Regions from separate parts of the Homo sapiens genome. Here all the other regions are linked to region 1. The links come from fine-mapping of genetic effects on gene expression. A gene starts in region 1. Each other region holds a variant in brackets. All regions are shown on one strand. Distances are between the middles of the regions. Region 1 holds the start of PTPN22 (protein tyrosine phosphatase non-receptor type 22). Region 2 has its middle 32 kb from the start of MAGI3. Region 3 overlaps AP4B1 (adaptor related protein complex 4 subunit beta 1). Region 4 overlaps RSBN1 (round spermatid basic protein 1).

Region 1 (8,193 bases):
TCTTTTGAATAAACTCTTAAATAAACTTATAGGAGACAAGGAAATTGAATAAATGAAAACTTCTATAGCTGAATATACAGATTTATATTGAAGAGATTCAGACTAAGGGAAGATCATGGCGAAACAGAGTTAGGGGCAAGATTTTTGAAGAAAAATTGAGCTTTATGGTTTTATTTTCATTGTGGTGAAACTTAGGGGTAAAGGTGAGAAGTAGAAAAAAGTGGTAGTAGAACGAACGAGGTCTGTAGGTGATGTGCTTGGATAGGTTGGGTGGGGATAGTTGACAGGGAGGGGCTTGGTGACAAGCTAAGGAATCTGGACTTGTTCCCGTAGATCATCAATAACTATTCTGATTCTTTAGCATTAAAGTGCAGTTTTAAGAACTTTCATCCAGCCTTGGTTAACAGGAGATACTAGAATGGAAACATATAGATAGGAAGATACTCTAAGTTTATTGCTATAGGAATCCGGGTGTGAAAGTGGGAATGGGGCTAAGTGGGAATGGAAAAGACAGGTTGAATCTAAAAGACATTGAGGAGAAATTTCCAATAGGCCTTGGTGATCAAAAGAATGCTTACAAAGGACTGAATGTTTCACAGACAGTATATATATCCCATATCAAATCAATGACCCTGGAATGTAGGGAAAGGCAAGAGTAGTGAAACTAAAGCTAAGGTTGGGTAAGTATCTTCTCCAGGGTAAAACATGTCTCCCCCTCATCTAAAAGACAGAAGGATGTTCTGAGAATCCTGAATGTTTTTCCTATTGAATAGTTTATCTTACCCTTGTAGTCTTCCCTGAAATTCTCCTCAATTAATGTTTATTGTAATCTAATTCCTGACCTCTGTGATACTGATATTTCCCCTTAAACTAGCATACTCCCCTCTTCTTGGAACAGGTGACATGGTGACCAGCACTCTTCTCTGTTGTGTTCTTCCTTCTGACCAAGCACTACAGCCACATGAGGCAGCAGTGAGATGTGGCCTTGTCACTCCTCTTCAGGTGCTTATCCACAATTTACTTCCCACAATTTACTTGATGGTTCTGGCAAAATGTTTGTGAGTCTTTTTTTATTGCATGGAATTGTGTTCACTTAGGTTTTATGCCAGACTGGTTTAAATGATTCATCATAAATTCTGAAACTCTTTTAGGTATTTGCCAACCTTTACTGCATGTCTTGTTTCCCCTCCCCAGCTCTTTATCTTCCCGCAAGATACAAATGAGTCAACACAATCTTCATCAAAAAGCATTGTGCTCTGTAGAAGGAAGTGTGATAAATTAAGTAGTAGCTTATTTTTTTAAAAAAAAAATAATAGCTCCAGCTACTTGGAAGTCTGAAGTGGAAGGATCACTTGAGCCCAGGAGTTCCAGACTAGTCTGGGTAACATAGCAAGACCCTGTCTCAAAACAAAACAAACAAACAAACAAAAAAACCCAAAACAAAAAAAATAATTAAAGTTTTTTGTTTTCTTCTTCAGTTTGTTTTTTGCTTGCTTGAGTGGTCTGCTCAGGAAATGGCCTTGTAGCTAAGTGGGTTTTGGGGGTTTGGTTATTTCACAATGTCTCTATACCTTTTGGGTTTACAGTAGAATAGATTGCTGCTTGCTTTTTTAAAAAAGTGTGAAGTTCTGCCAAGACACTATTTACAGATTCTTAGATTTTGAGGAAAGGGACTATGGAGGCATCTAAGCAAAATTTTTTTTGTTATCTCCTATTTATTTCTGTCTTCTCCCTCATTAAGAAGAAACAAGAAAGTTAGTAAGAGATTGTGCTGAAATATAGGCTTGAGAAAAATAGATTTAAATTTTATTAGGCAGGTTTGCCTCATCAATTAATAAAAATTAATAAAGTTCTAGTTTTGTGTAATTGAGGACATTCTAAGGGTACAGAGAAATTATAAAACTATATTATCTTCTTTGTCCAAACATAGAAAATCATTTTCCTTTTAGGATTATGCTTTGCTACTCTGCAATTAAGCAAGTTAGTTTGGAATGTTTTTATTTTTATTTTCTTTCCCAAAGTTACCTAAGGAGTGTTTTAATTTTTATCAGTAATCATGTCTGTATCTTTAGTTCTGAGTTGCTTTATTAACTGGCTAAGGATGTTTTTGTTTTGTTTTGTTTTGTTTTTACCATATTCTGGCTTTCTCAGTGTTGTATGCCAATCTCCTAAGACAATGTTTAGAATTTAGTGGGTACTCAATAAATTTGTTGAACAACTTAATGGATTTTTAAATGTTTATTTCTAATTTTAAAAACGGTATGATAATTTTAGAAAGCAAACTTTATCATAATTCTAAAATTATGATAATTTTAGAAAGCAAACTTACACAATTGATTCTTTTTTGCTTCTTTTAGTCTTTAACTATGTACACACTTTTACATGGTTTTAGTTATTACAAACTTGAAATTTTGTATTTTTATAAATCAAAGATTTCCCATATTTTATGTTTTAAAATAGCCAAAGTAAACATCACGTTACTTAGAGCAGCAAGAAATTCTCTCTTAATTCTAGATGGGGATAATTTAAGAAATATACTATTCCTAACAAATATTGCTGAAGAATGAGGGTTTATTTTAATTTATGTATACTGGGATTGAGTTTCTTAATTTGAAATATTGTCTTTAAGTTGTCTATAACCAAGATATCTCGATGATCTTTCTTTTTTTTTTGCAGTACTTAGTAAAGAGCATGCAGTATCTTTAATGTTCAGATTAAGCAGTGTTCAGAATCATGATATCCTGAAGGAAGTTTGAATAATGTTGCAAAACAGAAAGGATTGCTAATATCTTAAATAGAGGAAGTCCTAACAACACATTTCCCAGTTTTCTTCAGGATCAAGACTAATTTTGTTAACATTTGTTGAACTTCTGCCTTCAATAAAGATGATATACTGATTTTTGGATGTTCTCACACTGAATTAGGCACTTGGGTAGACTTGTACCCATTGAGAGGTTATGCAAGCTCAAATGTGGAAAGTTTTTCTAGAAGAGCCTGCCTTTCAGGGCCAAAATGCCACAGGCACAGCATAACTTCCTGAAACAAATTTATTTCCTAAGACATTGGTTGCAGAGTAGAAATGTGTTCTTTAGAAACAGTTCTTCAGGCTTTCTGCCCTAAAAGTTACAATGTTGTCAGCAAGGTGGTTGATTTTACTTTCTTTTTGTTCCATCACAGTTTACCAGCATTACATATGCAGGGTATTGAGCTAACTGTCTGGTCAGGTGCTCCTTGTGGGGGCCACTTGCTCTAGATCCTATATAGACCAACACTCTTAGTCTTTATATCCAGAACCCAAGTGAAGCTTCAAAGGTTACTGGGAGGGTTGAAGAGGTGCTGAAATCAACACTTCCCTTAATGGAGGTCAGCACTTCCCCAGTCCTGGGAGAGACACAGACTGTCAGAAGCATCTGACTTTGCTTCATTCAAAAGGGAGTTTGAGGTATATATAGCAGACTTAAAAGTTATGAATAAAAATACCTTCTGTGATGAACAGAAGTTTCTCATTGATCACACTGACAAGAAACCTTTCGATGAACAGTCCGGGTAGAAGACATGTCACTCACTCTAAACAGTGTCTGTCTTCTTTCCTGGGCCTAACTGAACTTTGCAGAGTTCATTTGGGACATAAGGAAACAGAAGGTGTCAACTTGGCCCTTGTGCTCACTGGGAAAATGGGGAGAGACAGAACTCATTCAGGAGACCTGTAATTCTGTTCTTTCTCTGGGAGGCAAGAAGAAAGGTGAGTTTTGCATATGGGTGATGGAATGGAATAATCTCAGTTAAGCAGACCACACTTTACGTTCTAGTTAGCCTCTTGTTTGTTAAAAATTTGAATTGTAACCAGGTTCCTTTGCTGAGAAGGAAGGCACTAGGGCCCTGGAGTGAGATGATGGCTGTGTTATGTGACCACAGAAGGTGGTTACGTACTAATTTCCTCTAGGGCTTGTGATGAAGTCAGTAAACCACAGCCTTCAGCATGCTCTGCTCAGGCGGCAGCAGTGGCTTTTTGGAGGTGTCTCGGCCATGACACACATTTGACATGCCCTCCCTCAACCTACTTATAGACTATTTTTCTTGCTCTGCAGCATGGACCAAAGAGAAATTCTGCAGAAGTTCCTGGATGAGGCCCAAAGCAAGAAAATTACTAAAGAGGAGTTTGCCAATGAATTTCTGGTGAGTCCTGTATGTGACCCTCTCAGGGTAGTTACATACACTATTTAACTGACTATGGGGGTCCAATTTTCCGAGACCAAATTGCTCTTGGGATAAAGTAAATATGAGACCTTGGCGGGGAAGACAGAAAAAAAAAAGTTTGACTTCTCTGAGTGGTTTGCATGTATTTCAGGTATTCTCTCAAAATTACTGGTTTTAATATTTTGTTTGCTAGTTCTTTGGAGTTTGGTTAGGAATCCTACAGAAGACATATACAACTCCAGATGTAAAAACACTAATATTAATTGAACATCCAGATTTCCCCAGGTATCTAAGTTGTGGTTTATGCTTTATATTACTAATTTTAATTAATATTAAGAAGAAAGAGACCAATGTTAACTTTTCATGCAATATTACATTTTTAGCCTCCCCTCTGGGATTCTATTTGGTTGACAAAGGTTTTTGAAGAGCACCAAAACTACCCACTGCCACAGTTTTTTTTGTTGTTGTTGTTTGTTTTTTTAAGATTCAGAATCTTACTCTGTCACCCAGGCTGGAGTGCAGCAGTGCAACCACAGCTCACTGTAGCCTTGAACTCCTGGCCTCAAGTGATTCTCTTGCCTCAGCCTCCTGAGTAGCTGGGGCCACAGGTGTGTATCGCCATGCCTGGCTAATTTAAAAAAAAATTGTTTTTTTCTTTTTTGTAGATACGAGCCTTGCTTTTTTGCCCAGGCTTGTCTCGAACTCCTGGCTTCAAGCAATCCTCCCATCTTGCCTCCCAAAGTGCTGGGATTACAGGCATGAACCACTATGTCTGGCCATCATTTTTCTTTTCTTTTTCATATGAAAAATATATTATAACATGTGTTTTTTCAATAACAGGGCTTCCTTAACTTCTTTTGCTTGGAGAAGTGGAATGGCTAGGATGGAGAGTAGAGACAAGTGTAGGTCAAGGAGAGAAACATGAGTACAAGGTAGCTTCAGGTTGGGTGGATTAGATTACCCAGAAGAACAGTGAATCTCCTTTGAGAGAACTGTGATTATTGATGCAATGGCAGCTGGGTAGGCCTCATTCACCCTACAAGCTGAGATATCAGATAACATAGGGTGTCTAATAGTACCTATCATGTATTTTAGAATGCTTACAGCTGGCGTTTCAGAGATATAAGAATTTTAAACCTTAGCTCTTCAGTTGTGAAGAAATGGGTGGAAAGAGGGGAACTGAAGTACAAACCTGAAATTAAATCATGATTTTTTTTCACCAAATTATGAAGTATTTGACATGTTCTTAAATCTCTCTGTTTTCTAACTTATAAAATGGGGATAATAATACATGTCCTACCTATCCTCACAGGATTGTTGTGATGATTAAATATCAATAACAATCATTAAATGTGGTCATTTATTGAGTACCATTTATTGAGCACTTAGTATGTACCAAGTTCAGTTCTAAGCACTAAAAATACAGCGGTGAACAAAAAGAACCAAAACCTTTGCCTCCTGGAGCTAACACTCTGGTACCGGATAGCAGATGTGAAAACACTCTGAAAGTCTTGAGTAATTAGATATTATTGAGTGATTAGATATTATGATAGGAACTCCGATGTCAGCTCAACATGGATAATCTTGTGGTACTATGAAAAATGTGCTCTCACTGCCACTGGCTGATCAGTCTGAGCCCCTCTGGTAGAGTTACCTGAAAGGAGATAAGTAGGAAGTTCTAGCACATGTGTATACATGTCCCTGCCCCTGGACTATAATTCCTAAGCCAAGGTAACCCAAGGCATAGATGTAAAAAGTGAGCTGAGGGGCAGTGCCGGCCTCTGTTTTATTTTGGTTGTGTTTTTTAAAATAATGTAGACTGGCCGGGGGCAGTGGCTCACACCTGTAAACCCAGCACTTTGGGAGGCCGAGGCGGGTGGATCACCTGAGGTCAGGAGTTTGAGACCATCCTGGCCAACATAATGAAACCCCATTTCTACTAAAAATACAAAAATTAGCTGGGCGTGGTGGCAGGCACCTGTAATCCTAGCTACTCAAGAGGTTGACACAGGAGAATCGCTTAAACTCGGGAGGCAGAGGTTGCAGTGAACTGAGATAGAGCTGTTGCACTCCAGCCTGGACAACAAGAGCGAACTTCTGTCTCAAAAAAAAAAAAATGTAGACTATATCCCTAATATTTTACCTTTTCTCAGCTAAAGTCATTATAATTTCTCACCAAAATATAGCAGCTACCTCCTAACTGGCTTCTCTGCCTCTAGCCTTGCCCCACCTTCAGTCAATTTTCAGTTCAACACCCAAGTGATCTTTTAATCATACAAATCTGGTCTTTTTTTTGGGGGCGACAAAGTTTTGCTCTTGTCACCCAGGCTGGAATGCAATGACACCATCTCGGCTCACTGCAGCCTCCACCTCCCTGGTTCAAGCGATTTTCCTGCCTCAGCCTCCCAAGTAGCTGGGATTACAGGCATGAGCCACCACGCCTGGCTAATTTTGTATTTTTAGTAGAGACAAGGTTCCACCATGTTGGCCAGGCTGGTCTGTCCAACCAGGTAATCCACTCGCCTCAGCCTCCCAAAGTACTAGGATTATAGGCATGAGCCACCACGCCCAGCCAAATCTGGTCATTTTTTCCCTGCTTAAAAACTTGTTATAGTTTTTTTTAGCTGCTTAATATTGTGCAATATAATACACATTTAGAAAAGTACATAAAACATTTAAGTATAATTATAAAGCAACCATTAGCAGTGCAACCACTACCCAAGTCAAGAAACTGTCAGACCCCCGAAGACCCATGCCCCATCAGGTCCCCTACACCCATCTGCCCCTGTCCTGTCCTACCCTGGCCAAGGGATAATCACTATCCTGACTTTTATATTAATCACTTCCTTGCTTTTCTAGCTCCTGATTTTAAGGACCTTGTTTTTGGGTAGTGATTAAGTGTAACCTCACTGTTCACTGACTCATGTCCTCCAGTGGAAAAATAGAGTCTTCCTCTCAGCTCCATCTAAAGGTTTCAGATGAGACACCAGATAGAGAGCTTTGGGGGAGTAGAGGAGTAGTGAATGAGGCTAGACTGCTTGCTTGGACAAGGTAAATACTGCCACTAAATCAGAGGGCTTTCCATCTGGTCATGTTCTGTGTCCCATCTTAAGCCCTTAATGTATTCTCCCAGGATTTTATGTTTCCGAGGTTTGAGGACTCATTCTGTGACACAAGGCCACTGTTCACTTAACTGGTGGTAACTTTAAGGGAATTATCAAAAGGCATCTCTATTTCCAGGTAGATTCCCTGAGCATCCTAACCCCTTTACCCTCTCCCCAGGTCCATGGTTCAGATTTCAGTCTCCACTTCCTTCTTGGCCATACATCTTTGTACAGAGAACAATACAGATGGCTGTCTGTATCCCCAAGTTCTACATCCTTGGATTCAACCAACTATGGATCAAAAATATTTGAAAAAAATACCAAAAATAACACAACAACAAAAAATAAAAAATATAAAGCATAACAACAATTTATCTAGCATTTACATTGTATTAGGTATTATAAGTAATGTAGAGATGATTTAAAATATACAAGAGGTCATGTATAGTATGTGTAAATACTATGCCATTTTATATGAGGGACTTGAGCATCCACAGATTTTGGTAATTGAAGGGGGTGGTCCTGGAACCAGTCCCCCACAGATACTGTGAGAGGACTGTATTCATAATTGGATGTGGCAGTCCTGTTAATGGCAGCTGAAGCCAGTGCCATGCTGCTTATGTCTTTTCCCTGTGCCAGGACTAAATTCAGTAACTTTTCTGTAGTTGAAACTACCACTGACCACCCATCTAAGGTTTTTATACATTCATATAAACATTCATTGAGTGCTTATTGTGTGCAAAGTAATGCCCTAGATGCTAGGAATGCAATGCAATGCTCCATGCTTTAGTGGAGCTTATGTTATAAGGCAATAGATATGTCTTAGAGAGGCAGACATTAAACAACTAATTGCTATATTAAATATTTAATATAATTGTGATAGTCTGGGTGA
Region 2 (8,193 bases), 510 kb after region 1:
AACAGTGTAAAAGTGTTCCTATTTCTCCACATCCTCTCCAGCACCTGTTGTTTCCTGACTTTTGAATGATTGCCATTCTAACTGGTGTGAGATGGTATCTCATTGTGGTTTTGATTTGCATTTCTCTGATGGCCAGTGATGATGAGCATTTTTTCATGTGTTTTTTGGCTGCATAAATGTCTTCTTTTGAGAAGTGTCTGTTCATGTCCTTTGCCCACTTTTTGATGGGGTTGTTTGTTTTTTTCTTGTAAATTTGTTGGAGTTCATTGTAGATTCTGGATATTAGCCCTTTGTCAGATGAGTAGGTTGCGAAAATTTTCTCCCATTTTGTAGGTTGCCTGTTCACTCTGATGGTAGTTTCTTTTGCTGTGCAGAAGCTCTTTAGTTTAATTAGATCCCATTTGTCAATTTTGTCTTTTGTTGCCATTGCTTTTGGTGTTTTAGACATGAAGTCCTTGCCCGTGCCTATGTCCTGAATGGTAATGCCTAGGTTTTCTTCTAGGGTTTTTATGGTTTTAGGTCTAACGTTTGAGTCTTTAATCCATCTTGAATTGATTTTTGTATAAGGTGTAAGGAAGGGATCCAGTTTCAGCTTTCTACATATGGCTAGCCAGTTTTCCCAGCACCATTTATTAAATAGGGAATCCTTTCCCCATTGCTTGTTTTTCTCAGGTTTGTCAAAGATCAGATAGTTGTAGATATGTGGCATTATTTCTGAGGGCTCTGTTCTGTTCCATTGATCTATATCTCTGTTTTGGTACCAGTACCATGCTGTTTTGGTTACTGTAGCCTTGTAGTATAGTTTGAAGTCAGGTAGTGTGATGCCTCCAGCTTTGTTCTTTTGGCTTAGGATTGACTTGGTGATGCGGGCTCTTTTTTGGTTCCATATGAACTTTAAAGTAGTTTTTTCCAATTCTGTGAAGAAAGTCATTGATAGCTTGATGGGGATGGCATTGAATCTGTAAATTACCTTGGGCAGTATGGCCATTTTCACGATATTGATTCTTCCTACCCATGAGCATGGAATGTTCTTCCATTTGTTTGTATCCTCTTTTATTTCCTTGAGCAGTGGTTTGTAGTTCTCCTTGAAGAGGTCCTTCACATCCCTTGTAAGTTGGATTCCTAGGTATTTTATTCTCTTTGAAGCAATTGTGAATGGGAGTTCACTCATGATTTGGCTCTCTGTTTGTCTGTTGTTGGTGTATAAGAATGCTTGTGATTTTTGTACATTGATTTTGTATCCTGAGACTTTGCTGAAGTTGCTTATCAGCTTAAGGAGATTTTGGGCTGAGACAATGGGGTTTTCTAGATATACTATCATGTCATCTGCAAACAGGGACAATTTGACTTCCTCTTTTCCTAATTGAATACCCTTTATTTCCTTCTCCTGCCTAATTGCCCTGGCCAGAACTTCCAACACTATGTTGAATAGGAGTGGTGAGAGAGGGCATCCCTGTCTTGTGCCAGTTTTCAAAGGGAATGCTTCCAGTTTTTGCCCATTCAGTATGATATTGGCTGTGGGTTTGTCATAGATAGCTCTTATTATTTTGAAATACGTCCCATCAATACCTAATTTATTGAGAGTTTTTAGCATGAAGGGTTGTTGAATTTTTTCAAAGGCTTTTTCTGCATCTATTGAGATAATCATGTGGTTTTTGTCTTTGGCTCTGTTTATATGCTGGATTACATTTATTGATTTGCGTATATTGAACCAGCCTTGCATCCCAGGGATGAAGCCCACTTGATCATCTACAGAACTCTCCACCCCAAATCAACAGAATATACATTTTTTTCAGCACCACCTCACACCTATTCCAAAATTGACCACATACTGGGAAGTAAAGCTCTCCTCAGCAAATGTAAAAGAATAGAAATTATAACAAACTATCTCTCAGACCACAGTGCAATCAAACTAGAACTCAGGATAAAGAATCTCACTCAAAACCGCTCAACTACATGGAAACTGAACAACCTGCTCCTGAATGACTACTGGGTACATAACGAAATGAAGACAGAAATAAAGATGTTCTTTGAAACCAACGAGAACAAAGACACAACATACCAGAATCTCTGGGACGCATTCAAAGCAGTGTGTAGAGGGAAATTTATAGCACTAAATGCCCACAAGAGAAAGCAGGAAAGATCCAAAATTGACAACCTAACATCACAATTAAAAGAACTGGAAAAGCAAGAGCAAACACATTCAAAAGCTAGCAGAAGGCAAGAAATAACTAAAATCAGAGCAGAACTGAAGGAAATAGAGACACAAAAAACCCTTCAAAAAATTAATGAATCCAGGAGCTGGTTTTTTGAAAGGATCAACAAAGTTGATAGACCGCTAGCAAGACTAATAAAGAAAAAAAGAGAGAAGAATCAAATAGACGCAATAAAAAATGATAAAGGGGATATCACCACCGATCCCACAGAAATACAAACTACCATCAGGGAATACTACAAACACCTCTACGCAAATAAACTAGAAAATCTAGAAGAAATGGGTAAATTCCTGGACACATACACTCTCCCAAGACTAAACCAGGAAGAAGTTGAATCTCTGAATAGACCAATAACAGGATCTGAAATTGTGGCAATAATCAATAGCTTACCAACCAAAAAGAGTCCAGGACCAGATGGATTCACAGCCGAATTCTACCAGAGGTACAAGGAGGAACTGGTACCATTCCTTCTGAAACTATTCCAATCAATAGAAAAAGAGGGAATCCTCCCTAACTCATTTTATGAGGCCAACATCATTCTGATACCAAAGCCAGGCAGAGACACAACAAAAAAAGAGAATTTTAGGCCAATATCCTTGATGAACATTGATGCAAAAATCCTCAATAAAATACTGGCAAACCGAATCCAGCAGCAGGAACACACTCTTAAGACACAGATCGCTCATGCTTTTGTGTGTGGCTTAAGAATGCCTTTAAGCGGTTTTCCGCCCTGGGCGGGCCAGGTGTTCCTTGCCCTCATTCCTGTAAATCCACGACCTTCCAGCTTGGGCGTTATGGCCATTATGGACATGTTACATTGCTGCAGAGATTTTATTTATGGCCAGTTTTGGGGCCAGTTTATGGCCAGACTTTGTGGGGCTTGCTCCCAACAAGAGATTTCTGGGTTTCACCCTTAGAGATTTTGGTATGCAGTAGGGCCCTTTAATCTGCAGTAAGCCCACCACCTCCCAGGTGACTCTAGTAGTTTCAAAATTTTAGTGGCATGATTCCAAAACTTTAGCACTATCAGAATCAGCCAGAAGGGTGGATAAACCAGAGACTGTTGGGCTCTACTCCAAGAGAGTTTCTAATTCAGAAGGTCTAGAGTGTCAGAATTTCCATTTCTAAGTTCCTGAGCAAGGCAGGGACCAGCTTTTGAGATCCACTGTGTCCTAGGACAAGACTCTAAGAGACACTTCACTGGTTATATAATTCTTGATTCCACCAATTTTGAAGCAATTTCTAAAATATACAATATACATGCCTCCACTATGCCATATCTTCATACCCCTTTCTTTGAGAAATGTGGAGAATGGCAGGTTTAGGGACCTAGAGAATACTATCTTGGGGTAAAATCCTTCAGCAGCTTGAGATGAAAAATCTACTCTTTTCTTTTCTTTCTTTCTTTTTCTTTTTTTGAGACGAAGTTTCATTGTTGTCACCCAAACTGGAGTGCAATGGTGCGATCTTGGCTCACTGCAACCTCCACTTCCCAGGTTCAAGTGATTCTCCTGCCTCAACTTCCCGAGTAGCTCGGATTACAGGCTCCTGCCACCACGCCTGGCTATTTTTTGTATTTTTAGTAGAGACGGGGTTTCACCATGTTGGCCAGGCTGGTCTCAAACCCCTGACCTCAGGTGATCCACCCGTGTTGGCCTCCCAAAGTGCTGGGATTACAGGTGTGAGCCACCACAGCCAGGCTTTTGTTGTTGTTGTTGTTGAGACAAGGTCTTACTCTGTCATCCAGGCTGGAGTGCATTTTGTTTCGAGGCAAGGTCTTGCTCTGTTACCCAGACTGGAGTGCAGTGGCACAAACATGGCTCACTGCAGCCTTGACCTCCTGGGCTCAAGCAATTCTACCACCTCAGCCTCTCAGGTAGCTGAGACTATAGGCATATACCAGCAAGCCTGGCTTATTATTTATTTATTTATTTTTTATTTTTATTATTATTTTGGTTGACATGAGGTCTCATTATGTTTCTCAGGCTGGTCTTAAAATTCTGAGCTCAAGGGATCCTCCCATCTCAGCCTCAAAGTGCTGGGATTACAGGTGTTAGCCACTGTGCACAGCCAGAAAATCTACTTTCAAAATGGTGCAGTGTTTGTATAAAACTTCAAAGTATTAGAAGCCTCAAAATAAGACTGATTCTAGACAAGAAATAGCAAAAGCAGTACTTTTTTTCTCCTGCCTATACTGCTTTAAGATTTAAAAAGCAGGGAAATTTATTTTTTGTCACAAATATGTGTATTTGTGACAACTATAGTATATACACTTGTGAGTTTTTCAATAAAATATAATTTGCATTTAAAGTCATTTAGCTTTTGGCAAACTGGAGGACACCATGTCAGACATATTTAATTTCATATGGGGGGATATTTTAAATTGAAAATAAAAATAGGATTAAAAATGTTAATCTTATACTGTTCCTCTGGGAAAATCATTTTATCTTAGATTTCTTAATACTGCTTAAGATGCAGAAAGATAAAGTGTGTGTGTGTGTGTGTGAGAGAGACAG[AGG/G]GGGAGAGAGAGAGAGTGAGTGAGTGTGTGTGTGTGTGTGTGTGTGTAAGGCTTGCTTGGTTTCATGGTTCAAACTCATGAAAGTGCACAAGGTAACCAAACAGCATAAAGGATGATGATTCCATGATTCAGGGCCCATCCACGTGATGCATTTTTGAGATATGTTAGGTAATCTTTTCAGTGTATGTGATCTATGAAGATATTTTCCATAAAGGCATTTGGCAAATGAGTTTCCGATGAAATGTACTTCTAGACTTCAGTATCTTCAGAAATAATTCAGTCCTTTCAGATTTTGGAATTACATAAAAGATTTATGTTTCTTATAGGCATCCATGAGGAGAGTTGTCAACATCTCATCTTGAAAAAACCTTCGTAAATATCACAGTCTCCATAAAGCTTCCTTTTCTTGCCCATGAGCACCTCACTCCCAGCAATGGACTCACACCCTCCCTTGAATCCCACTTCACTGTTATAATGAACAGACATCTGACTTTACTGACTGAAATTGATTGGCTTTACTGACTGAAAATCAACTCAACTTTATTCATTATCCTTTTTTTCTATTACTACTTTCAGCTTAAATACAAATAAAGAACTCTTCTTTCCTACAGCTATCTACAGGAAGTGAGTATTTTTAAATTACCAATCAAATGTCTTGGTGTGAAGGGAATTATATTTTTGCAGACTCTTGATGATTAAGTCTTCTGAGAATGCCAATGGGCATGAAAAGTTTTTCCTTTTCTCTATTAAAATAGACCCTACTTAAGGCAAATTTTTAGACAGATAGCAGAGAGATGCACTCTCTTAAGTATAAGGCTGGTCTAACTCAACTGTCTTACATATGGATGAAGTGTTTGAGGACGCAGTTGCCAGGCACATGGGCTCTGGAACCACACTGCATGAGTTCAATTCTGGCTCCTACAGTTACTAGCTGTGTGACATTGTGCAAGTTACTTGCCTTCTCTGTCTCATCTGTGACATTAGATTCTAATAGTACCTACTTCAAAGAGTTATGAGGATTATATGTAAAAGGCACTTAGAACAATGCCTTAAATATAATAAATGTTCAGCTGTGGTTGTGTTGTTGTTATAATTGTTACTGAAAGTTTATATCATGTTAACAAAGAATGAAGAGCAATTTTATTCTAAAGGGATAAGTATTAACAATGGTTTGTTTACTATAAAATGGCATGAATGCCTATTTAAGGGAAAATAGAATAATTATTAGTTTACCTGATCCCAAATTAAAATGAGAAAGCTCCTTTCTGTAAAAGCTACTACTTATTGCCAAGAAATATAACAAATGTTATAAAATGTATAACAAACACAATATAGCTTAAAAACATCCCTTAAAAAAACAACCTGGATTTTAGTTACGAACAGACGCCATTACATTATTACCTTGAGACATTTGCTGAGAGGGAAGCACAATTATATAATCAAGCATAATGAATGCGTATTCATTTATTTATACTGCAACTTATTCCAGAAAGGAATAGAGGCTGCTATGACTAGTGAATCATAAGAGAAACATAAAAAATCTTCTAATGCAGTGGGCTAGCTCTCAATGCATATAAAACACATTGTAAAAAATATTGCAAAGAAATATAAATAAATAAGAACAGAAAATGCTCCTTCTACATTTTTATTAGTGGCACATTTCCTTTCTTGAAGTATCAGTGTTTCATTTGAATCTTTCCCATCCCTCATTCCTCATATTCAATTGGTAGCCATGACCTATTAGTTTCACCATAGCCTTATTTCTTGGATCCAGATCTTTTTTCTGTTTCTACTACCAATACCCTACTTCACATTACCTCTTTAATATTAATAGTTTTTCATTCGCCCCTTTTCCCTCTCTCCTCTTTCCATCCTCCTTGCCTTCTCTTCTACCACCATAATCTACCCAACACTGTGCTACAGGATTAATTTTTCTAAAGTACACCTCTGGTCTTGTCATTTGCCTGCTAAAAAACCTTTAGTGGCTTCTTATTACTTTATATTTTTGATACATCTTATTTGTACCTCTTTTTTGTCAATGTTTTCTACTTCATAGTATAATCAATTTTGTATATATTTGAGCATCTCTACTAGTAAGTAAGTTCCTTGCATTGCTTTTTTTCCACAGAACCTAGCCATTCTCCTAAGGTATCAATGAATGTTGAACAAAAAGAAGTAAGTAGGCCAGGTACAGTGGCTTGTGCCTGTAATCCCAGCACTTTGGGAGGCTGAGGAGGGAGGATGGCTTGAGGCTAGGAGTTCAAGACCAGCCTGGGCAATATAGCGAGACCCTGTCTCTACAAAAACAAAAACAAAAAAAAAAACAAAAAGAGAAAAAAAAGATTAACTGGGCTTGATGGTGTGCACCTGAAGTTTTAGCTACTTGGGAGGCAGAAGTGGGAGGGTCATTTGAGCCTAGGAGGTTGAAGCTGCAGTGAGACCAGGCTGGACTGCACCACAGCACTCCAGCCTGGGGGCAACAGATTGAGATTTCGTCTTAAAAAATAATAATAATAAATAAATAAATAAATAAATAAAATCTTAGAAGAAAATAATCTTGCTAGGCATTCGTATTTCTTTTTCTTCTTTTTTCTTTTCTGAGACAGGGTCTCACTTTGTCACCCAGGCTGTAGTGCAGTGGCACTATCATGGCTCAATGCAGCCTCAACCTCCCAGGCTCAAGCAATGCTTCTGCCTCAGCACTCCCAAATAGCCGGAACTACAGGCACGCACCGCCACACTGGCTAATTTTTTATATTTTTAGAGGCTGGGTTGCGCCACGTTGCCCAGGCTGGTCTTAAACTCCTGGGTTCAAGCAATCCTCCTGCCTTGGCCTCCCAAAGTGCTGGGACTATAGGCATGAGCCACCACGCCTGGCCTTGACAGGCATTTCTAACCACTACAACTATTTCTTTATGATGACATAATTTGATCAGGACAAAGAGAGATGTGAATCACCAAATTAAGAAAGTGTAACTAATCAAGACCTTAATTACAGATCTGCAACATAGTTACTTAATTTCTCTAAATTGAAAAGAACATATTTTTATCTTGTTGCCTGCTATGTAAGTTATGCCAAATAAAATGTTAAGCAAAATTTAAGGAAAGCCAGTAAAATGAAAAAACAAAAAATCTAATTAAAAATAACAAAATGTAAAAAGGTACCATGACACTAGAGATTCTAATGAAAATGATAAACTGAAATGTCCTTACATGTAAGGTAGCAAGCTATTTACTAAGTTGAAAGCCTTTGAGAAAATTTATAATCACATGACCATCGTAAGAGTAATTCATTTGTGCATTTATGATTCTGCAGACAAACAGTATTCTTGGCAATGTGCGTTTAAATGTTGAGTGACCCCAGAGTACAACTATATGAAGATTAATTTTTAGCTTGTATACAATTTGCATTGTAGCATGTTCAGTCTCAGAAGAAAATTCACCCAGAGATTTCATCAG
Region 3 (8,193 bases), 25 kb before region 1:
TCCCAAACTTCTGACCTCAGGTGATCCGCCCGCCTCAGCCTCCCAAAGTGCTGGGATTACAGACGTGAGCCACTGCGCCCGGCCAGTTAACCACTATTAACTCCCTCACATTCCACTGAGAGAATTTCTTTTATTTGCCTTACTTTCCCTTATTGATATAGGGAAATAGAAATATACTGTGGGAATAGGTTCTACCCTTCTCTAGTCATGTCCCCCAAACTAAGCCATTTATAGTGTCTTAAAATGTAAGGAACCTGGACCCAGTGTATGCTGATCATGTCTTTGGTCTTAGAGGAGTGTGCATTTGTATTAACAACTCATCTTGGAATTTTAAGCCTTTTTTGTGTAAACTTTAAATAGTACATGAAAAGTGACTTAATTATGGCACAGCCTATTTTTAAGAATTCTCCCTTTGCTATGATGAACAACCACCTGGTCATATGGCAGTGGCATGGAAATGGTCCTAATTTTGTTGCTAAAATAGCTCTTTTGTTTTGTTTTTTGGATAGAATGTCAAAACTGGACCAATGGGGCCAGGCTGAAGTATTGAACTTTCTGCTACGCTACCAACCCCGCAGTGAGGAAGAACTATTTGACATTCTCAATCTGTTGGATAGTTTCCTCAAGAGCAGTAGCCCAGGTGTGGTGATGGGAGCTACCAAACTTTTTCTGATCTTGGCAAAAATGTTTCCCCACGTACAAACTGATGTCCTTGTGCGGGTCAAGGGACCTTTGCTAGCTGCCTGTTCTTCAGAGAGCCGTGAGCTCTGTTTTGTTGCTCTTTGTCATGTACGCCAGATCTTGCATAGTTTACCAGGTCACTTTAGCAGCCACTACAAAAAGTTTTTTTGCTCCTACTCGGAGCCCCACTACATCAAACTACAGAAAGTGGAGGTGCTGTGTGAACTGGTGAACGATGAGAATGTGCAGCAGGTGCTAGAGGAGCTTCGAGGGTACTGCACGGATGTGTCTGCGGACTTTGCACAGGCTGCCATCTTTGCCATAGGTAGGTGTCTGCTCCTTTTCCTTCTTGAGAACCTAGACCAGCCAGCAAGAAAACTGTGGTTAGAGGAACCATAGAGAGCAAAGGGCATGAATCTTGCTTCAGAAGCAAAGTACTATGCACTAAATAATTGGGTCAGTGACTACAAACACGGGGGAAGAGAGTTTTTTTTTGTTTTTTGTTTTTTTTTGGTCAAGATTGGTGTTGCTGTATCTTCCAGGATGGAGAATACAGGTAACACAAACTACAATACTTAAAATTGTTGTTGTCTTCTATCCAAAATGCTTTCCTATACATCATCTTACCACAGTATCGTGAGACAGTCAGGAAAAGTAGACAAATGTCATTAACTTCATTTTAAAGATGAAGAAACTCAGGCACAAAAACAGTTATCAAATTGCCAAAAGGGCACATAGTTTTAGAAATGGGACTGAAATCCAGCTTTCCTGACTCAAAGTCCTATGTTAATCCACCAGTCATTTATTGAGCTTCTGCTATGGGCTATGTATTGTGCTGAATGTAGACCAACACAGAATAATTCCTAAATCTTACAGACTTTTTCATAGTACCCTGTCTGGAATTTGAAAGGCTGGAGTGACTCAAAAACTGAAAACAGCTGTTGAGCCAAGTTTTGAAGGATTTCAAGTACAGGAGGAGGAGCAACCCTCATATTTGGAATAAAGCATGGTTATTTTAGGGGCAGAGAAGAGGGAGCAAAGAGGAGACAAGAAATCCTTAGGAGACTGCTGTCAAGTGTCCCCCACAAAAATACTCCATTGCAGGTGTGCTGCAACAAAAAGGGTACCTCATATCTGGCTGCCATGTAAATACCTTTGTTACTATAAGTTTTCAACCTTGTTTAATGGGGAATTGTTTTGCTATGAGCTTTCAGTTTTCTAGTAGTCAGTGAGAAAAAATGATTTTTACCAAAGTTCCCTTTATAGTAAACTTATATTCTTAGTTCATCAAGTAAGGAGTGAATTTTTTTCTTTTTTTTTTTTTTAGATAATTCTGTTTCTTTTGTCTTTCACTGGTGGGAGATGATTTTAGATTGAGGTGCTAATATTTCACTTAGCAGTTTTCTCTGCTTTCCCTTCTTTTGTAGGTGGCATTGCCAGGACTTACACAGATCAATGTGTTCAGATTTTAACAGAGTTGCTGGGTCTTCGACAAGAGCACATTACCACAGGTAATGCCTGCCTTTTTAGGATTTTTGTTTTTTTTGTCAGGTGCCTGGCCTATAGTAGTTGCTCAAAACATGTTTGTTGTTGAATGAGTAATATAGAGATTTGAACTTTTCCTTGCATCATCATCTGTTGCTGTTAGAGAAGCATAAAGTCTATAGATCTAATAGGATATTGAGTCTTCAGGCTGCCATGATCTATAAGGCTGTACTATAGATAATGAAGGCTACTAGGATGACCTTGCTTGATATTTCACCATCTTTACTTCTCTTTTTGTTTTATGGCAGTATGCCATAGGCAGTGGCTTCCAGGGTTGGGACAAGGGTAAGTCAAGCAAGATGCCTAGGATGCAAAATTTAAGAAGGCACTCACTCTTAGGTTCCTGCAAGAGCCAATCCTGCATGTCTTCTTCAATTTTGAACCCTAGGCACCTCACTTGTGTTATCATTTTCCCAGGCCTGGTGGTTCTATTTATACTGTCTTTAGTGTTTCATTCAACAGCAATACTACCCCACATTTGCATACAGCTTTATGTTTTACAAAGTGCTTTTTCATACATTAGTTCATTTATCCTCATGTCAATCTGATAAGAGCAATATGCATTCAAGAAATTATTGCTTATTTCATTACATTTCTTAGATAACCATTGACCACACCTCCAAAACCCATTTTACAGAAATCCAGCCAGAATCATGAGTCTGAATACATGACTGTTCTTAAGATTCCTGCCTACCTGGAGGCTCTAATCCTGTGCTCTTGTACCCTGGCCTGTATTGTAGTGGTGGTGCAGACTTTCCGAGACCTGGTTTGGTTGTGTCCTCAGTGTACTGAAGCTGTATGTCAGGCCCTGCCCGGCTGTGAAGAGAACATTCAAGATAGTGAGGTAGACTGTAATTCTCCTTTACTTCTAGGTAGGGGGAGAATGCTTGAAACCCTGCCCTTTGAAATGGAATCTAATTATTCTCTCTACCCTGTGTTTGAAGTGGGCACTCTTCGAATTGATTGCCACCTTAGATTCTCTTTTGGATATAGATGGCATATAAATTATAAAAACAAGATTTATCCGACGGGTTTTATTACAAAACT[G/C]TGATACCATTGTTCTCTTGAACAGTTCTGTTTTGTTTTGTTTTGCTTTGCTTGAGATAGAGTTGCCCAGGCTGGAGTGCAGTGGCGTGATCTCGGCCCACTGCAACCTCTACCTCCCAAACTCAAGTGATTCTCTTGCCTCAGCCTCCTGAGTAGAGTAGCTGTGATTACAGGTGTGCACCACCACGCCCAGCTAATTTTTGTATTTTTAGTAGAGAGGGTTTTGCTATGTTGTCTAGGCTGGTCTAGAATTCCTAGCCTCAAGTGATCACCCACCTCAGCATCCCAGAGAGCTAGGATTACAGGCATAAGCCACTGTGCCCCGCTTCTCTTGAACAGTTTTGAGTCAGAGATTTAGACCATGGAGTTTTTAGCTAGAATGAAAATTATAATCATTTGTGAAATTTTTACAAAGATTTGGACGTAATCACAGGTCTACTGACTTAAATATTCAGGGGTGTTGGACCTAGACAGATAACTTTTTTTTTTTTTTTGAAACAGAGTCTAGCTCTGTTGCCCAGGCTGGAGTGCAGTAATGCCATCTTAGCTCACTGCAACTTCCGCCTCCTGGTTTCAAGCAATTCTCCTGCCTCAGGCTCCCGAGTAGCTGGAACTACAGGTGTGCACCACCACGCCTGGCTAATTTTTGTATTTTTAATAGAGACGGGTTTCACCATATTGGCCAGGCTGGTCTCGAACTCCTGACCTCAGGTGATCCACCCTCCTCGGCCTCCCAAAGTGCTGGGATTACAGACGTAAGCCACCGTGCCCGGCTGACAGATACATTTTTAAGAAGCTTCACAGATGACTCTGATGTGCACTCTAGGTTAGTAACCATTTTTGTGAAAAATTTAGAGAAATTCTTTGAGCAGCTTCCACTGAAACACTAAAACCCAATAGGGCCAAAGGCCCCAAACCTGAGGAAACCTTATTTATTGCTTAATCCAACATAGGCTATGAAAGTTTTGAGTTTCCTCTTGTGTATTAGAATTTCATTCCTATTTGTTGTAGAGAGTATAGTACGGGGAATCAGTAAATTAAATGAAGTAAACTAAAGATTACACCTTTTCTGCTGGCACTAAGCGAAAAGCAAAACCAGTGGCTGTCTATTATCTCCTGTGTTTTAGACAGTCAAGTGTTGAGCACTTGCTCTTATTCCTTTATTCTCTAGGGGAAGCAAGCACTTATTTGGCTACTTGGTGTCCATGGGGAAAGAATTCCTAATGCTCCTTATGTGTTAGAGGACTTTGTTGAGAATGTGAAGTCGGAAACATTTCCAGCTGTTAAGATGGAGCTGCTCACTGCTTTGCTGCGCCTTTTCCTCTCCCGACCTGCTGAGTGCCAGGACATGCTAGGACGTTTGTTGTATTACTGCATAGGTGGGTTTTTCAGAAGGAAATAGTATTTGCCATGACCCATAGTAAAAATTCTTAATAGCTTTCATTGTTTGGTGAGTCACGTCTGGGACCCGAGAAGAAAATGTGAATGCTTCCTAGGTTTTCCTCTCTCCTTCATTTTTTTCTCCTATTATGGTTGGCACAAGAGTAGGAGGAAAGTGGTTTTGTTTTTAATGAAGTCAATCTGTTGTCTTACCTCAGAGGAAGAAAAAGATATGGCTGTACGGGACCGAGGTCTCTTCTATTATCGCCTCCTCTTAGTTGGCATTGATGAAGTTAAGCGGATTCTGTGTAGCCCTAAATCTGACCCTACTCTTGGACTTTTGGAGGATCCGGCAGAAAGACCTGTGAATAGCTGGGCCTCAGACTTCAACACACTGGTGCCAGTGTATGGCAAAGCCCACTGGGCAACTATCTCTAAATGCCAGGGGGCAGAGCGTTGTGACCCAGAGCTTCCTAAAACTTCATCCTTTGCCGCATCAGGTAAAAACAGTCCTTACCTTAAATCTTGTCATGATAAATCTTTACCTTTTCAATGATTGGTGGAAAGTAGAGTATCTTAGCACTAAACCTCAGACTGTTGCCTGAATTTGAAGCATTTGTGAGCAAGAAAGAGGTTCGTCACTGGTTATTTCAGCCATTTGTCCAAAAATAAAAGTCACATTGTGTACATTTGGGAATTTGGATAAAAAACTTAGCTCCTACAGATTAAGAACATCTTTCACACAAGTTTTCTGTCTCTTTTAGGACCCTTGATTCCTGAAGAGAACAAGGAGAGGGTACAAGAACTCCCTGATTCTGGAGCCCTCATGCTAGTCCCCAATCGCCAGCTTACTGCTGATTATTTTGAGAAAACTTGGCTTAGCCTTAAAGTTGCTCATCAGCAAGTGTTGCCTTGGCGGGGAGAATTCCATCCTGACACCCTCCAGATGGCTCTTCAAGTAGTGAACATCCAGACCATCGCAATGAGTAGGGCTGGGTCTCGGCCATGGAAAGCATACCTCAGTGCTCAGGATGATACTGGCTGTCTGTTCTTAACAGAACTGCTATTGGAGCCTGGAAACTCAGAAATGCAGATCTCTGTGAAACAAAATGAAGCAAGAACGGAGACGCTGAATAGTTTTATTTCTGTATTAGAAACTGTGATTGGAACAATTGAAGAAATAAAATCATAACAGAGTCTTGTTGCTTGTCTAGAGTAAGATGAATAACTATTACACTTTCTTAGTCTTTCCTATTAGAGCTGCCAGTAAGTCCAGATAATATCAGATACAAAGGAGAGTGGAAAATCTAGAAATCAGGATTCTTAAGTTTTTGGCCAAAGAACATTGATTCATTCCTTTCATTCCTATTGGCAATTGACCCCATTTTTCAGTGATGATGTTGTAGAGGTTAATGTTGGTAAGGAGATGCGTTGAGGATGGGATTTGGATTATTTCCTAATCAATTTTAGGAATTGTGTTAGTAATTAAAGATGGCTGATGTGTGGAAACTGATAGGGGTCATCATTTGTGGGGGTCATCTTTTCTTCCCTGGATTATTATAGTAAATTCCTAACTGTTCTCATATTTCCAATCATGCTTTTAGGCCAGATTCCAAAGTCCTTAATGTCATCTAAAGTACCTCTTTGGTGTCAAGTCTTGCCACTCCCAAAATGACTTCTTTTCTGGCAGAAGCAAACCATTTGCATTGCAGTTCCCTTTATACACCTGCTTCTTTCACCTCTGTGTTAACTTAAACCTGCTTTTATTTATTGCCTGGAACATTTTCTCACCCTCATATCTTCTTGAATTAACACCTCGTCTATCTTTCAGTGTTCAGCTCACTCATAAGCTCCTTCAGGAAGTTTCCTTTAACCCTCACTGCCTTCATTAGGGGCCTCCCTCAAGCTATCAAAGTAGCCAGAGCATACCTCTAGCAGTAGTATTGTAATTGTTTTCTTGTTGCTTGTCCTCAATTTTTATTCTGTTCTTATCTGACCACATTTTGTACATTGAAGCAACTTATGGCAAGAACAAATCTAATAAAATGATGGTAAAATATAAATAGCGAATCCAGAATGGGAAAAATTAAAATACCAGTTAAGACCAGCTAGGTTGGGGATGGGGAAATATACAAATGTTCAGGCTGTATGGGCCTATTAGGTGATATAGTTGAGCCTTGATTTGTCTCTATAGGTGATTTAGCAGTCAGAGTTAAGGGAAACAGTTATAATTGTCATCAGAGAGGAAGAAACATTGATTTCTAAAAGAAATGTACATGTAGTTTCACATAGGTGGTACTAAGATATGTGCAAGATCCTATGAGAAGTTAGTAATGGGTTTCACATGACTTTCTTAACAGTATTCTTCAACGAAAGCAGAGAGCATGACTTTAATACAGAGCTTAGACTGGGTGCAGTTGCTCACACCTGTAACCCAGCACTTTCGGAGGCCAGGGAGGGAGGATTGCTTGATGCCAGGAGTTCAAGATCAGCCTGGGCAGCATAGTGAGACCCTGTCTGTAAAAAAATTGACTTAGCCAGGCATGGTGGCACATGCCTGAAATCCCAGCTGCTCAAGAGGCTAAGGCAGGAGGATTGCTTGAGCCCAGGAGTTTGAGGTTACAGAGAGTAGTGATCACACCACTGCACTCCAGCCTGGGTGACAGGAGACCCTGTCAAAAAAAAAGAACATAAAAAAAGTAGGCTAGATATGGTGGCTTACGCCTTTAATCTCAGTACTTTGGGAGACCAAGGTGGGTGGATCACTTGAGGCTAGGAGTTTGAGACCAGCCTGGGCAATGTAGTGAGATCCCCATCTCTACAAAAGTAAAACATTAACCAGGTGTGGCAGCGTGTGCTTGTAGTCCCAGCTACTTGGGAGGCTGAGGTGGGAGCATTGCTTGAGCCTAGGAGGTCAAGGCTGCAATAAGCTATGCTCATGCCACCGAACTCCAGCCTGGGCTACAGAGCAAGACCCTGTCTCCATAATAATAATAATAATAATAACATGGTGCTTAATGAAGGCATTTCTTCAAGGACTTAAGATAACATGATCCAAGTATATAGCCTTTATCATCCAGCTTAATTCAAGGATTTTTACTACCTAGATATAGATAAGCACATACCTTCAGATAATTTTTCACCTATCACTTCTCTCAAATAGCCTTTTTTTTTTTTTTTTTTAAATCTGAGACGGAGTCTTGCTGTGTCACCCAGGCTGTAGTGCAGTGGTGTGATCTCAGCTCACTGCAACTTCTACATTGCAGATTCAAGCCATCCTCCTGCCTCAGCCTCCCAAGTAGCTGGGACTACAGGCATGCACCACCACGCCTGGCTAATTTTTGTATTTTTAGTAGAGATGGGATTTCGTCATGATGGCCAGGCTGGTAACTCCTGACTTCAAGTGTTACCCAGCCTCAACTAAGCTCTTAATAGGAGTAGATAACAGACAGTATTGAATTTTCTGGTAAGAGCCTGGGTTTTGTGAGTTGTTTATTGAATGGACTTCCCCATTGAACAACCTTTTTTTTTTTTTTTTTT
Region 4 (8,193 bases), 83 kb after region 1:
GTGCAAGAAAAATGAAAACTTCTGTTATTTTTATATTTTTAAATTATTGTGGTGGCTAAAGCTAGGATCCACATATAGGGTTTTCTTTTAACATTCTAGAAAACTCAAATGTTCTAATACCAGAGCAGAAAAATTTATATGTCCATTGAAACAGTAAGCTGATCCTTGTTTGATTACTTAACTCTTAGCAGTTGATACAGGATAACTTTATAAAGTTGAGTTTCCTTCCTTCCTCCCTTCCCCTTCCCCTCCCTTCCCTTCCTTTCTTTCTCCTTTCTTTGATGAGGTCTCGCTCTGTGGCCCAGGCTGAAGTGTGATCATGAAGTGTGATCATGGCTCACTGAGGCCTTGAACTCCTAGGCTCTAGTAGTCTTTCTACTGTTTCTTACTCCACTGTACCCCAGTACATAAACTTCAGGAAGTGGTGGAACTCAACTTGTTCTTCGCTTTCAGGTGCTATTTCCAGTGCCTCAGCCTCTAGAGTAGCTAGGACTACGGGTGTGTACTATTACAATTGGCTAATTTAAAAATTTTTTTATAGAGCCAGAGTCTCACTATGTCGTCTAGGCTAGTCTTGAGCACCTGGTCTCAACGGATTCTCCTGCTTTGGCCTCCTAGCATGTTCGGATTACAGGTGTGAGCACTAGCTTTGCTTATAGTCTGCATTTTCTGGTGATGCTGATGTTGCTAGTAAATGGACCACCAAGGCCATATAGGTCTCAAAATCTGTACATAAATTGCAAGCGCAAATAATAACAAACACTAAAAATACAGTGAAGTTAAAAGGGAATTGTTTTCAATATCACCTCTGAGATCTTCTGGCAACTAAGTAATTGAAGGATGTACATGGAGAGGAGTGTGTGTTATGTGTTTGCTGGGGGTAGGGAAGATTGGCAAATCTGCATGTTTTAAGTATCTTTTTCAAAAATTTTCATATATAATTTTGAGGTTTCACTGAGAATCAAAGCTTTTTAACTTTAGGTAGTTTTATTTCTTATATTACTTTTATTACTCTATAAAATGATAATGTTCTGTAGCATTGGCGTGTATAATTTTAGTGTCTACGGTTCCAGAGAAAAACAAAAAATGTTATTCCCTCGTTGTGTGTTGGGACAAGGCCTTATATGGGCTTGTTATATGCACTCTGATCTTTGATTGATTAACATTTTATAATGAATTGGTAATACTAATAAGAATAGAACTAGTAGAGTAGTATATAGCTTGGGAAATAGCTCAGAAACCCTTAAGGAACTGTATGCATTATTAGTGTGTTATAGAAAAGGAGAAATAAACATTTTAAGTAGCAGGTTTTATAAAATAAAATGGCATAAATAAAAATGGTAGGCTTGATTCTTTTTTTTTTCCTCTTATTTTAAGTACTCACTTTGACCCAGTCACACTGTTTTTTCACTATATATTTTAAAGTAGGAATGCCTTTCTATTCACAAGGCACAAGGTTAGGAAGATCGCTGGCTAATTTTTTCCTTTCTGTGTTTTAAAAAGTCAGCTTGAATAGGCTTCTTCCTGAAACGTGAGTTCTGTGGAATAATCCACACCCGCTCTCAACCCCCATACACAGGGTTTTCCACATAGTGCTTTTTTAGCTTGGTGTTCTCCTGAGTTATTAACAGATTTATAATTGTCCTTTGTAGAAGCTCTATGTATTGGGGACACAGTTGAGCTTACTTAATTCAGAAATTCATACAGGATAACTGTGAAGTTGAGTTTCTAATTTAAACACTACATATGTATTGACAGCAGTATATATATTCAAAGATAATTGTTTAACATTTTATAGATATTATAAAGAGAATAAATTTTATGCAAAACTATTATTTTTTTTAATAGGCATATTTCTCTTTGATGCCACATCCTTCTCCCCTCCCCACTTTGCCTTCTGATTTTACCAAAGACTGTGTTTTTCCTGTTGGCGTTATGTCTCCTGCTTCCATGGCAGCTTTAGTTTTTTCTGTTCTTTGGTCTCGTACTTACCTCCCTCCAGTCCTCCCAATTCTGTTTGTTCCTCCACTGTGCTCCAGTACATAAACTCCGGAAAGCTGTAGAATTCAACTTGTTCTTTGTTTTCAGTTGCTATTTCCAGGCCAGAGTTTCCCAAACTTGCCAGATCCTAAGAATAATTTGGGGTTGCTAGTTCAAATATACATTAGACTCTCAGGTTCCTCTTCTGGAAATTTTGGTTCATGAGGTCTGGAGTGAGGCATGAAATAAGTACCTTGACCGACTTGATTCCTATGATCAGGCAAGTTTAAGAAACACTGTTTTAAACCATATACCATCTACCATTACTCTAGTTCCTTTCATTTGACCTGTAGATAGCATCTTTTTAGAATTTCAGAGCATCATAAACTAAGAGATAATCTTATCTGACCTCTACAAAGTGCAAATTTTAAAAAATCATGTTTTGATTGGCCATCACTGGGGACTTTGTCTCTTCATGACATTTTATAATGCTTCCCATTGGGTTGTCAACATTGCCTGGGAAGCCTACTTCTTTTCTTTGTTTAGCTTGTTTACCTGTTCTTCATAAATACTATTTAAACTTTATCTGTATACATCTTTTCCTCATTCTCTCCTGTTACAGTAGAGAAGATATTCTATCTCCTCCTCAAAGGCTAATTTGTCAGGCTAATTTGTCTACTTGTGTTATGAATACCATCCCTTAGCCTGCTAAGGTTTTTAAAAAACTGTTGTCAAATATACACAAAATTTACCATTTTAACCATTTTAAAGTGTATAATTCTGTGGCATTGGGTATATATATTGTTCTATTACCACTACCGTTTCCAGAACTTTTTCCTCATACCAAACAGAAACTCTATACCCATTAGGTTAGGATCTTTGATGTCAGTTACCCGCTACTACCCCTCCAACCTTTCCCTTCTCCATTCCCACTCCCCACGTAACTAAAAGTATAAAATATATTAAGCGAATTTCTGCTTCGTGTCTTTCCCCCGCTTTTTTTTTCTCTAAATAAACTTTTCCTTTCTCCCTAGAAGTAAATCTTTATTCTGAATTTGTGGCTTATCATGTCGTTTTATCTTTTAACATTTTACTAATACCAAATGAACATAAAAACAATACTTGTACCTTTGTATTTTAAAACTACAGTGTATTGTGTGTATCATTCTGCAGGTTATTTTTGTTCAACATTGTTTTTGAAGATTATTTTGATACATCTAACTCTACATTAATTTTAACCATTATATTTGGTATTTTGTTGGGCAGCTGTATCACTGTTTTTGAACACTTTACTTTTCCTCTGCTCTCAAACAACAGCAATCAACACAGAAGACTTCTTTGCCCAAATGTGGGAGATTTCTCCCCCACAACAAGCAAGCAATCAGTTCTTCAGCAGACACCAGCTGGGTGTCATCCAATTCAATTCCGACACTACCCAGAGTCAGTTTTGGATCCCAGATAGAGGGCTCAGTCCCCAGGACTGGCCTCTCCTTCCCACCAGTCACAAGTCCAGGCCTCTGGAACTTCTGACCAACTGGCTTCAAGTTGGGGTTCCCACGATCCCCTCTTTGAGTTCAGTGGATTTGCTAGAGTAGCTCAGAGAACTCAGGGAAATACTTATGTTTATGGGTTTAGTGTGATGGATATGTTAAAGGGTGCAAATAAACAGCCATATGAAGAGATACACAGGGCATGGTCTGGAAGGGTCCCGAGCACAGGAGCTTCTTTCCCCGTAGAGTTGGGGTATGCCACCCTCCCAGCAAATGTATGAGTTCCTGTTGATCTTCCTGTCTGCTTCCACATGTTCAGCTATCCAGATGCTCTCAGAACCTCTTCAGTTTTTATGAAGCCTTCATTATGTAGGCTTGATTGATTAAGCCAGTGGCCGTTGGTGGTCAGCTTGACCTTTAGCACCCCTCCCTGGAGGTTGGGGGTAGGGCTGACCGTCCAACCCTCTAATTGTACCTTTATTTTTCAGGTGACCAGCCCCGCCCTAAAGCTGTTAGTCAATATTAGCATACAAAAATAGAGCTATTTGGAGATAACAAGGAGTTTAGGAGCCCTACCTCAGGAAATAGGGATGAAGACCAGATACATATTGCACAATATCACACTCACTATTTATTCTCCTATTCTTGGACATTGAGGTTGTTTACAGTTTTATAATATTATGGTGTTACAGTAAGCATTTGTGTAAATGTCTTTTTTTGGGTCGGGGTGGGGGCAAGGTAGAGGGTCTTCCTGTGTTTTCCAGGTTGATGTCAAACTCCTGGCCAAGGGATCTTCCTATTTTGATAGGTCTTTTTATCCACGCATGTATCCTGGGGTTTCTATTTGTCCTTTCTCCTGTCTGGCATTCCATGACTCTTGCCTGAATTCAGTAGCTCAATTCTCACATCTGAA[G/A]AATTTTTCTTTAACTGTAACATTTGATTGATGGGTCATTTTTCTTAGCTTTATAAAGGCATTGCTTCAGTGCCTTTAAACTTACAGTGTTGCTGTTGAGAAATCCAATGCCATAATGATTCCTGATTTTTTTTAGCTGTTCTGCTTTTTTCTCTCTGGAAGCTTTCAGAATTTCTACTACAGAATGTCTGAGTACCAAGGATAATGTGCCTTGAGATGGATCATTTTTCTTTAAAAAAAATTACTATGAAATATTTCAGACGCAGATATAAAGAATAATAACAATCACTCTGGCCCAAGAAATAAAACATCATCAGTGCAGTTGAACCCTACCCCCCACCACCCTTTTTTATGTGGAAATCCATCCTTTATGGAGTTTTTTCTTGTATTACTTGTTAATTTTCTTTCTCAGTTATCGTTTTTTTCTGAAACTTTTATTAATTGTATATTAGGCCTCCCGATTCAACCTCAATTTTCTTATCTTTCCTATTATATTTTTCATTGTCTTTTTTCCTGCTTTCTGGGGGTAGATTTAACTAGCTTCTTAATGTTGATTAATGTCAGCTGTAATGTTTTCAGTTTGAGAGCTTGTTCTTGTTCTCTGTCCCTTTTTTAATAACTTCCTATTGTTTCATGGATACAATACCTTTTTTCATCTCTCTGATACTAATTATACTTGTTTTTAAGTTTTCTTTTATACTCTTAAGTTGTTCAAGTTCTTTTTTATTTTTATTTTAGTCTTCTGGTTATGTTTTCATCAAACATGGTGATCTGTTCATATTGAAACATGAGTCGTTATAAAACATTAGAAACTCAGTGAACACGTGGGTGGGATTTGTCATTTGAAGACTGGATAGGGAATGTGGTCATATTGTGAGAAAAGCTCTAAATATTAGTGTTTAAAGATATTGTTTCTTGGGCCTTTAGTTTCTACAGCTAAAAATCTACCACATTTTTGTCAGGGGATGGAGTAGGTTACACACCTGTCTGCTAGAATTCTTGGAAGGAGGTAGGCGATTGCATTGTTAAATAACTGGGATTTTGCTTAATTCCCTGCTTCCAGTGTAATGGTTCTCTCCCTTGCTTGTGCCTTGTATCCTTGTGTCTGTAGTCATTTAGTTCACTTTTACCACAAATAAGGTGAGGAAAAAGGAGCATGGGATAGGAAGGTAGAATGTAAGTGGAAGGGTCTCACTGACTCAAGCAGATTTTAAACCCACCTTTTTTGTTTTTAGTTGCATGCTTTGTTCTTGCCTTCTATAAAAGTTAGCCAGAGTTCTCAGTTTGCAAATTTCCCTGTACATTTTTCACCTTCCAAAAACATTTTGATAGCTTGTATCTGTAGTTTTTACTTCTGTTCTCTTTGACTATCTGGGATTTTAGCCTTGATATTTTATTCTCACTTGAGTGGGATTTTGACAAGGAATAGAAAAAAATCATACATCCAGTCTACCATGTTTAAACAGCAGTCCTCTTCACCTTTTCATCTTTATCAGATTCTTCCTATTAGTGTTGAAACATGATCACACAAAAGAGGACTTAAATGGAAACATATATTACTGTGTTCCTGGGGAAGAAGAATCAATATCAGAATGACAATTTCTCCTAAGTTATAAATTGAACACCATCCCAATAAAATAGAAATAGTTGTTTTTTGAGACAACCAAGCAGATATTGAAGTTTATATGCAAAAATAAGTAGGCAAGAACAGCCAGAAAAGAAAAAGTAACGATGGAGGAGTGCCTTACCTGGTACCAATATATTCTAAAGATTTAATTATTAAATCAGTGTAATTAGTTTATGAGCTCTGTTCAGCAAGATAGAAAATTTAGAAATAGACTACAGGCACTCACCACCACGCCCGGCTAATTTTTTGTATTTTTTTAGTAGAGATAGGGTTTCACCATGTTGCCCAGGCTGGTCTTGAACTCCTGGACTCAAGTGATCCGCCTGCCTTGGCCTCCCAAAGTGCTGGGATTACAGGTGTGTGCCACAGTACCTGGCCCCCAAACAATGGCTTAAAACAACGCAAATTTAGTTTCTTACAGTTCTGAAGGCTCTGAGGGAAAAAAATCAAGTTTTTGCCTTTTTTAGCTTCTTGTGTCTTACATTTCCTAGCTTGTGGCCCCTTCCTCCATCTTCAAAGTATATTACCCCAGGCTATGCTTCTATCATCACATCGCCTTCTCAAATATCTCTTTGCCTCAGTCTTTAAAAGACACGTGTTATTACATTTAAGCCCACCTGGATAATCCAGGAGACTCTCCCCATCTCAGGATCCTTAATTTATTCACATCTGCAGAGTCCATTTTGCCATAAGGTAACATTCACAGATTCTGGGGATTAGGTTCTAGGGGTTAGGTTCTTTGGAAGCCGTTTTTCAACCTATCACATACTTCTGGCTCATCATGTCCAAAACAGTGAAACCTGATCCTCCTCCAGAAGAGAGAGTAGTTGCTCTTTCAGGTTCCAAAGTACAGAACCTGGTAGTCATCTTTCATACTTCTTTCTCTTATCTATCATATCCAATCTTTGTCCACATCTTGACAATTTTATCTCCTGTATAATTTTCAGATCTCTTTGTTTTTCTTTTAAAAAGAAGTCCCTATTTAAAATCAAGTTATTAGCTTAGCCTAACATTTCTTATTTGGCATATTATAGAATACTCCTAGCTGATCTCTTTACTTTTTGTGCCCCTCTGAGAAAACTAAACAAACAAAAAACCAAAGGCAAATTGGGTAACTTTCCTTCTTTTCAGATCCTTTAGTGGCTTTCCAGAATCCTTGATGTGATCTTCTAGGCTCTCCATAATCCAGCTACAGCTGATTTTTCCAGTCTCATCTTTATTTTTCTCTTTTGCTTTCTGTGTTTATTATCATTAGCTTTCTTTTAGATCTTGGAAAGGGCAATGCTTAAGAGATTTTGTTTCCCTCTGAACTTGTTCTTCAGATTTGAGCTCAATGTTACTTCAAGGAATACTTTATTCCCCGGATCAGGATCCCATGTTCTTTTTCATAGTGTCATACATCTTACATTCTGAAGATCAAAGTTTATAATTAAATGTTTATTTAGATTAGTGTCTGCCTCTCCTTACTAGACTGTAAGCTTCAAGTGGCCAGGAATAGGTCTGGTTTGCTATACCTGTGTTGAGTACAGTGGCATAAAATATATGTTTATGTGCTATGTAGTGACGTTTCAGTCAATGACAGACTGCATATGTAACGCTGACTCCATAAGATTATAATGGAGCTGAAAAATTCCTATCACTTACTATATTTACTATACCTTTTATCATTATTTTAGAACATACTTCTACTTATTAAAAAAAAGTTAACTGTAAAACACCCTCAGACAGATCTTTCAGGAGATATTACAGAAGAAGGCTTTGTTATCATAGCAGATGATAGCTCCGTGAGTGTTATTGCCCCTGAAGACTTTTCAGCAGGACAAGATGTGGAGATGAAAGACAGTGATATTAATCATTCCAACCCTGTTGTAGGCATAGGCCAATGTGTGCATTTGTATCTTTGTTTTTAACAAAAAAGGTTTAAAAAAAGTAAAAAAAAAAGTTTTTAAGTAGAAAATACCTTACAGAATAAGGACGTAAAGAAAGTATTTTTGTATAGCTGTACAATGTGTTTTAAACTATGTGTTATTACAAGAGTCAAAGAATTAAAAAACTCATAAAGTTTATAAAAATTACAGTAAGCTAAAGTTAATTTATTATTGAAGAAAGAAAAATTTTAAAAATCAGTGTAACCTAAGTGTACACTGTTTATAAAGTCTACAGTAGTGTACAGCAGTGTCCTA

The links.
Region 2: its variant is fine-mapped to the expression of PTPN22 in whole blood (INTERVAL, PIP above 0.99).
Region 3: its variant is fine-mapped to the expression of PTPN22 in whole blood (TOPMed, PIP 0.94).
Region 4: its variant is fine-mapped to the expression of PTPN22 in whole blood (TOPMed, PIP 0.97).

The regions. Positions count from the first base shown.
Region 1 is chr1:113,867,520-113,875,712 of GRCh38, reverse strand. PTPN22 (protein tyrosine phosphatase non-receptor type 22) reads left to right here and starts at 4,001. Exons shown (of 21, transcript NM_015967.8): 1 at 4,001-4,176. The coding sequence starts at 4,090. The region is part of intron 3 of AP4B1-AS1 (AP4B1 antisense RNA 1); the gene reads right to left. RefSeq lists enhancers at 3,996-4,255, 4,814-4,863.
Region 2 is chr1:113,354,145-113,362,337 of GRCh38, reverse strand. No RefSeq gene overlaps it. Among named protein-coding and RNA genes, the nearest start is that of MAGI3, 32 kb to the left of the region's middle. The variant AGG/G (reference allele first, on the strand shown) is at 4,733.
Region 3 is chr1:113,892,717-113,900,909 of GRCh38, reverse strand. AP4B1 (adaptor related protein complex 4 subunit beta 1) reads left to right here. Exons shown (of 10, transcript NM_001253852.3): 5 at 510-1,006; 6 at 2,109-2,192; 7 at 2,967-3,070; 8 at 4,445-4,652; 9 at 4,872-5,153; 10 at 5,418-6,716. The coding sequence ends at 5,845. AP4B1-AS1 (AP4B1 antisense RNA 1) reads right to left here. Exons shown (of 5, transcript NR_125965.1): 4 at 2,921-3,042; 5 at 1-1,038. Among named protein-coding and RNA genes, the nearest start is that of AP4B1, 8.0 kb to the left of the region's middle. The variant G/C (reference allele first, on the strand shown) is at 3,274.
Region 4 is chr1:113,784,884-113,793,076 of GRCh38, reverse strand. All of the region lies in intron 2 of RSBN1 (round spermatid basic protein 1), which reads left to right. Among named protein-coding and RNA genes, the nearest start is that of RSBN1, 23 kb to the left of the region's middle. The variant G/A (reference allele first, on the strand shown) is at 4,384.